Linked DNA regions of Homo sapiens. The protein of the gene in region 2 interacts with the protein of the main gene of each other region in a pairwise test. Each region holds a gene or a part of one and is shown on either strand. Other genes may lie near its edges. The genes, in order: PAX2 and BLID.

What was found.
Region 1: the proteins of BLID (region 2) and PAX2 interact in a two-hybrid assay, tested with the Homo sapiens proteins (one large-scale study listed by BioGRID and IntAct).

What each region holds. Positions count from the first base shown.
Region 1 is NC_000010.11:100,776,534-100,780,354, reverse strand, and holds part of PAX2 (paired box protein Pax-2), read right to left. Parts: intron 858-3,821; coding exon 772-857; intron 1-771. UniProt on the Homo sapiens protein: Transcription factor that may have a role in kidney cell differentiation. Has a critical role in the development of the urogenital tract, the eyes, and the CNS.
Region 2 is NC_000011.10:122,114,569-122,117,765, forward strand, and holds BLID (BH3-like motif-containing cell death inducer), read right to left. Parts: upstream 1,648-3,197; 5' UTR 1,355-1,647; coding exon 1,028-1,354; 3' UTR 772-1,027; downstream 1-771. UniProt on the Homo sapiens protein: Functions as a proapoptotic molecule through the caspase-dependent mitochondrial pathway of cell death.

The DNA.
Region 1 (3,821 bases), on a different chromosome or scaffold from region 2:
CACCAAGTTTCTCCTTGGGCCAGAGGGAAGCTAGTCTGTGTGCGTTGGGGACAGAGGAGGAGTGTTAGCAGGTGTTCTAGTAGGCCTGGGTCACGTCTTTGAGAGGCCCTAAGCATGGCTCAAAGAATGAGGAGGATGGAGAAAGGATGAGAGATACAGAGTGGGTGAGACAGAGGCTGAGCAATCAAGAGAGAAAGGCCAAGAGGAAAGAGGCCATGAGGAAGGAGGAAGACAGAACAGAGCCAGAGCTACACCTAAGAAGAAGAGAGAAGAGAGGGAAGGGCAGAGGGAGAAAAGAAGAGGAGCCAAGGGGAGAAGACAGAGGACAATGTTAAGAACAAGATGGAATGTTAAACAAAGATGGAATAAGAAAGTTGATATAAAAGAAAGAGGGCACAGGTAGGGAGACAGAATCAGATAAAAACAAAAGATGTTGGAGAATGAGGGAGAGGGAAGCAGGAGGAGGAGAAGAAGAAAAAGAAGAAGAAATGCTAGAAGAAAAACACTTAAGAGAGAGGAGAGGAGGGGAGAGGATAGGGACTGACTAAAGCAGGGCAGAGGGAGGTGACACAAGTGGGAGGCAGAGAACAGTCCTAGAGAACCAGTATCTCTCAGGAAGACCCTATGTGGACAGGAGCTCAGGTGAGAGGAGTTGGCAAATAGGTTGGGCTCTGGACCTCAAGCGGGCAGGCAGTTCCCAGGGGTGGAGCTGCGTTTCCTGCCTTTCTCTAGGTGGGATCTGGTTTCCTCCCCTTCCCTGAGCCCTCTTACCAATGGTGTGGCCAGGGGCGGTCACTCCTGTCCCAGCCCCATCCGGCGTTGGGTGGAAAGGCTGCTGAACTTTGGTCCGGATGATTCTGCAACAGCGTCACAACAGCATCACACATCAAATGCCCACTCCTATCCCGGCCAATTCCAGCCCAGCCCTGCAAAGGGGCTCTCTCCCAAGTTCCTCAGCGATTTCCTCATCCATCTGCTCCCTGTGTCCCTGCCCTCACTGACTGCTGCAAGGCACAGGGTTTTCCTTCTGTTGGCTCCGCAGATCCAACGTAATGCAGCTCTGGGTGAATGCAGCCTGCCTTATGTCCTGCTATGTGCATCACCCAAATTATTGTTTGATTTTTGGTAGCAAAGATCAGGGCAGAGACCCAGTGAGCACAGCATCCTTTCTTTTTCTGCAGGGTGAGGACTGCCCTAGTGGCTTGTTGTCCACCTTTCTCTCCTCAACCACACACGCATCTCTTCCTGGTACCAGGACCTCCTGGGTTTTGAGATCATTTTGGAGCTGGCTTTCCTACTTGGGACTGTGTCACAGTCCTTCAGAGTTGAGAGGATGAGATTTCCCCATATCCTGAAAGAATGAGAAGTAGCCAGGGAGGGGCTGGGTCACAGGTGACCCTTTCTTTTGTCCCCAGGACTCCAACACAGCACACAGTCCCTTTGCCAGATGTCAGGCTGAACAATCTCTTCTTGAGCCCACTTACTGCCCTCAAACAAGTCAGAGCCCTGTTCCTATATGGCTGGCTGGTTTGCTGGCCTCCTTTTCTGAGGTTCTTACTTGGATTGCAGCGTCTTTGCCAGCCTGGTTGAAAGGTCTGGTGCCCTCCCTGTACATCCTGGGGAGAAGGGGCCAAATCAAACATTCCAGGAGCCTGCTTTTCAGGGATCTGAAAAACCGAGGGCTCAATGATGCCAAAGACCAGTCCCAGGGCCAAGACGGAGGAATGCTCCCCCTACCCACTGGTCAAATGAGGGGCCTTTGGAAGCCACTTTTCTGATAGCGTTCCTTGTCCCCACAGAGAGGCATGTGAGCCAAGCTCACCTCAACCAGCCAGGTGAGTCACAAGCCATGAGCAAGTCAGCTCTAAAAGCTTTTCCTGAACACTTGCAGGCAGTTGGGATAAGGCCCCTAGCTCACAGTGCTGGATATGAAGGTGGGGAGGGGAGACTTAATCCCCAAAAAAGCTCAGTTACCCGAGGGAATCAGGTAGTTAGTGCTGGAAACTTGGAGGAGAGGAACCATTCCCCTTGCAGGAGAGGGAACTGCGGAAGAAGTCGCTGAACAGAGGGAAATTGATGTAGATCTTCAAAGCCAAGTAGGGCTGAAATCAGAGGCACAGAGGATGGCGGAAAGGACACTGGGCTGCATGGCAGGGGCCCTGAGTCCTGCTTCTGATTTTGCATTTAAGAAGCCACATAGCCTTGGTCTCACCTCTCAACTTCTCTGGGCCTCAGTTTCTTCAGCTTTAAATGAAGGGGTTGGACTACAGGATCTCCACTGTCTCTTTCCCCAGTAAAAAATAACTTGATCCTAAGATGAACAAAGAAGTAGAGGGGAGGGCATCACAAGCTGGTGGAAGCGGAAGCCACGCGAGCCTGCTGCCTTCTGGGTTAATGCCCAGAGTGGTCAGCCAGAATGAGTGGAGACAGGCAAGGGACTAAGAGGAAACAAGAATGAAAACTTGGATGTGATGAGAACCATCACCATTTTCCACTTACTGAACATCTACTATGTGCCAATATTATACACAATTTATATGACATATATATTACTGTTAATTCGCACAACCACCTCCAAAGTAGAGACTATTATCCTCATTTTGCAAATTGAAAACCAAAGCTGAGACAAGTTTAAGTAGCTCACTCAAGATCACACTACTGGCTGGGTGCAGTGGCTCACGCCTGTAATCCCAGCACTTTGGGAGGCCAAGGCGGGTGGACCACCTGAGGTCAGGAGTTTGAGACCAGCCTGGCCAACACGGTGAAATCTCGACTCTACTAAAAGTACAAAAATTAGCCAGGCATGGTGGCAGATACCTGTAATCTTAGCTATTCAGGCAGCTGAGGCAGGAGAATTGCTTGAACCCGGGAGGCGGAGGTTGCAGTGAGCCAAGATCAAGCCACTGTACTCCAGTCTGGGCAATAGAGTGAGACTCCATCTCAAAAAAAAAAAAAAGGCCAGATGCGGTGGCTCATGCCTGTAATCTCAGCACTTTGGGAGGCCGACGCAGGCAGATCACGAGGTCAGGAGTTTGAGACCAACCTGACCAACATGGTGAAACCCCAACTCTACTAAAAATACAAAATTAGCCAGGTGTGGTGGTATGCACCTGTAATCCCAGCTACTCAGGAGGCTGAGGCAGGAGAATCGCTTGAACCCAGGAGGCGGAGGTTGCAGTGAGCTGAGATTGTGCCTCTGCACTCCAGCCTAGGCGACAGAGTAAGACTCCGTCTCAAAAAAAAAAAAAAAAAAAAAATCACAGTACCAATTAGGGAAGACTCAGAATGCAGCCTCTAAAATCTATGCTTTTTGTTACTTTGTCATCCTGCCCCCAACATGTAGGAACCAGGTTTAGAGGGCCTTAAGCCATGAGTGATTTCTAAACTAGGGGGGATCTCTACAAACAGATCCCAGTAAAGCAACATACATATACATGAGGCATGAGGCGATAGGGAGCTGGTCTCAGGAAAGAAAGGGAAGAATTTGCAAGACAAGAGGAAGGCAGAATGGTCAGAGTTTGGCAACCAACTGGAGTCAACCATGGTTTTACAAACTCAGATTTGTGTAACTGGAAGCTTGGTGGAGTTTACATCAGCAGGTCAGGAATAAGGCTATAGGGAGGTGACTGGTTTTGGAGGGAAGTGGTGATGTTGGTCCTAGATGTGCAGCATTTGAGGTGAAAGAGGAGCGTCCAGGGGCAATGCCCCTGCATCAGCAGGCACACAGAGGTATGGATTTAGGAGACTGTCAGGGACCGGGGAAAGGAGTGTTTAAAAGACAAGAGGCCTAAGGAGTGGATACTGGAGGACATTTATTTCCA
Region 2 (3,197 bases):
TCTCTTTTCTTTCTTCTACAGAAAATTCTTTACTTTAACAGCTTCAGGATCACTGATGCAATTTAGGAGTTTCTCCGATGCAATTGAGAAATGCAAAAGGGAGGTTCTATAGGCAGGGTCTTTTCTGCCTGGAGCTTTTAAGATCACTGAGGAAAAATAACTCAGATTCTCACTCTTTCTCTCCTCCCAGCTTCTGAGCTGCCCTGCGGGCTCAGTTCTCACTGTGGGTAGGTATGGGTCAGGGTAGTGGAAAGAAAGCAGAGAAGGGGACACTAGAATAGCTTAAAGTAAAAGCTCTGAAACACCTTTTCCATTTCCTTTTCCTTTTTTCCCCACAGATTTAGTTCTACTCACTCTAATAACAGAGTTCATAAAAGATTACTGGAATTTCTATTTCTTTCAGTTCCACAGGTTTTTTTTTTTGTAAAGGGAAAGAAAGGTTAGACTTATTTACAACACAATGACAATCTCTGATTCTTCACTTTAAGCAAATAAAGACGCCTAGTGAAATAAATGGATTGTGTTATTTAAAATTGAAAGCTTATGTGAACCACCACTCAGAAACATGCTTAAAAAATACAGAAAGAAAATGAAAACCCTGTGACTACACAAGATTATTCTGATGCCAAATGCTGAGTGTACAACTAAGTAGAGTAATTGTTAATAATATGACAAGTACCTACTTCCAATGTACAAATGAAATACACTCAAAACTGCAAAGGACAGTGGCACTGTACGCTGCCCTAAGGTTTACCATCACATAGCTTTTTGTTTTTTCATGAATTTGCAAGATTTGTTTTAATTAAATGCCATTTACTTTTAACTAGCCAGTTTATCCTTTTTAAAAATTTTATTGTTTCTCTGCACAATTTGAACCAAATTTGGAAAAGTTATGGGTAAAAGTGGGTAGAAAAGACTGTTAAGAATTGGGTCTTATTGAAATCAAGTTTCCTTCTGTGTTGTGCAGCCTGAATAATGGGCGAAATCTGTCCTAATATCTTGCTGCATCTGTCCTAACTCACTCCTTTTACAGGGCCTCAGCAGAGGAATTGCATAACAATGTAACTTGTATCCTGGTTAAATAGGAAGGTCTCTGAAGCACATGTCCAGGAACATTCCGCTTCATGGCAGAGGAGCCAAGATTGTACCTTTTAAGAGAAAGCACTGTTTCCTTAGGCAACATAGGTTCTTTGTTGGAACCCAAGAGCGCCTCCAGTGGCAGGCGTGCTTTTGCCTCTGGATAAATGGAACTGCCAGAGGCTCGCTCTATCCATCCTGTGTAGAGCACACACTCAGATTCTAGGATCTCAAAGAAATGTATTTCCTGGCCCTCTATAGGCAACAAAGTCACCATAATTTGAAGCTATTATGGAAGAAAGTCCAAAATTTAACTTCCATTCGCTTTATTCAGCAAGTTTTTATAAGGCAGATCTCATATGGACTATGCTTTGCATAAGCACGGTGTTAGATGGGAAGAAAAAAGTGGTGGGATCCTTCCTCCTCTTCCTTTCTTCCCAGCTCCTGCTATTCATGGAATTTCCCTTGATTTCAAGTGGCTACTCACCAAAATCCTCAACTGAAAACAGCTTCCAAGGGGTCATGTACTTATTCAATTCTCTTCTCTCTTTTCTCCAAACACAACATCATCTGACCAAGGTTTGCATGCATAAGCATTGCTAATTAACGATAAGTCTCCACGATGTCCTCCTCTCAGTAAGTTTGACACACAGACCTCAGCGAAGCTGTATGTACTGCCTAAAAGTAGGAAAGATCTCCACGTTGATTTCTGAATTGTAAAAGGCAGGGATATGTTTTGGACTTCTTGTCCCTTACTGTGAACAGACCTAAGAGTACTTACTTTATTTTTTAGAAAGAACCCGGAGCTGCTGATGTCTGAGGGAGTCGTTTCAACAGAGACTAGAATATCGAGAGAGAAAATTGATCCAGCTCTCTTGTCTGGTGCTTATAAAACATGAAAGTATCACCCTCGCCATGGCAGACCACAGGGAATGATCAGTGTGAATTGTTAAGTCCTCTTCTCAGTGATGCTTGCAAGCAATTTCCCTGGGGAAGCAACAAGTTCCTGACCACAGTGTTGTACACAAATAAATAAACAAAATGCTATTACTTTTTGTTCTTCACATTGGGAAAAGTTCAGAAACATCTTGTTTCAATTGATGGGCTGGAATTACAGAAACATTTTAATTTTGTCTTTCCTTGCTAGTTCTGTGCCTGAGATGTATTGGTAAAATGGAACATGAGTCATATTTCTAATTGGGAAAAGCCTGGTAATCATGGGCAACCCAGATCTGGGTGACTTACAGAGTATTTTTGTGTTGAGAGAGAAAAGACACTAAAAGTAGAAGTTTCTTACTTAGCAGCAGCAGAGAGGCTATAAGATTGAATCTGGTGTTTCACATGGCCTGTATCATGGTATAATGAGAAGGAATGTGTCTTGCACAAATTAGCCTATAGACCTTTCTAATCAGGACCAATATGTGACATATACAAAGGCAAGATCAGCTGTAAGGAAGGATTCACTCCTTTACCACCAAGCCATGGAGACTGCTTGAGTCATCATGGCCTTGGTCTCTTGATTTCCCTTATGTTATTTGAGTAGAAACTCAGGCACCAATGATGCCCCCAGTTAACCATAACCATAATGGTAGCATCCAATACCATTTTTAAAAAAGTCAGGGTTGTAGACAAAAGACTGATGTAGACCAGTGGAGAAGACAAGAGGGAGTTATGCAGCCTACTCTGAGAGCAAAGTCTGGTTTGGATCTTCTCTGCTACTTTTGTACATTTCATGCTAGAGGCAGAACAAGTATCCAGGGAACACTTTGGAACTTTCCTAAATTTACAGAGGGGCCTGTAACATTCAATTAGGGGGAACACAGAATGTTCTACTCTAGCAAAATTTATAGGTAGTATAAGAAATTCCATCAAGTGTCTTGTGGAAAACTGAATGCATAAAAGTAAGGATGTGGATAATGGGATCATTCAATATAGATTTCAAACCAAAGTCCGCTGCTTAATAACTCTGAACTTGGGCAGAGTACTTAACCTTACTGAACATCAGATTCTTTATTTGTAAAATGGGGACCATAATATCTTCTTTGCTCAATTATTTGGGGGATTAATGAGGGAAGGAATATAAATTATCACAAGATCTGGTATATAGTAAGAACTTTGCA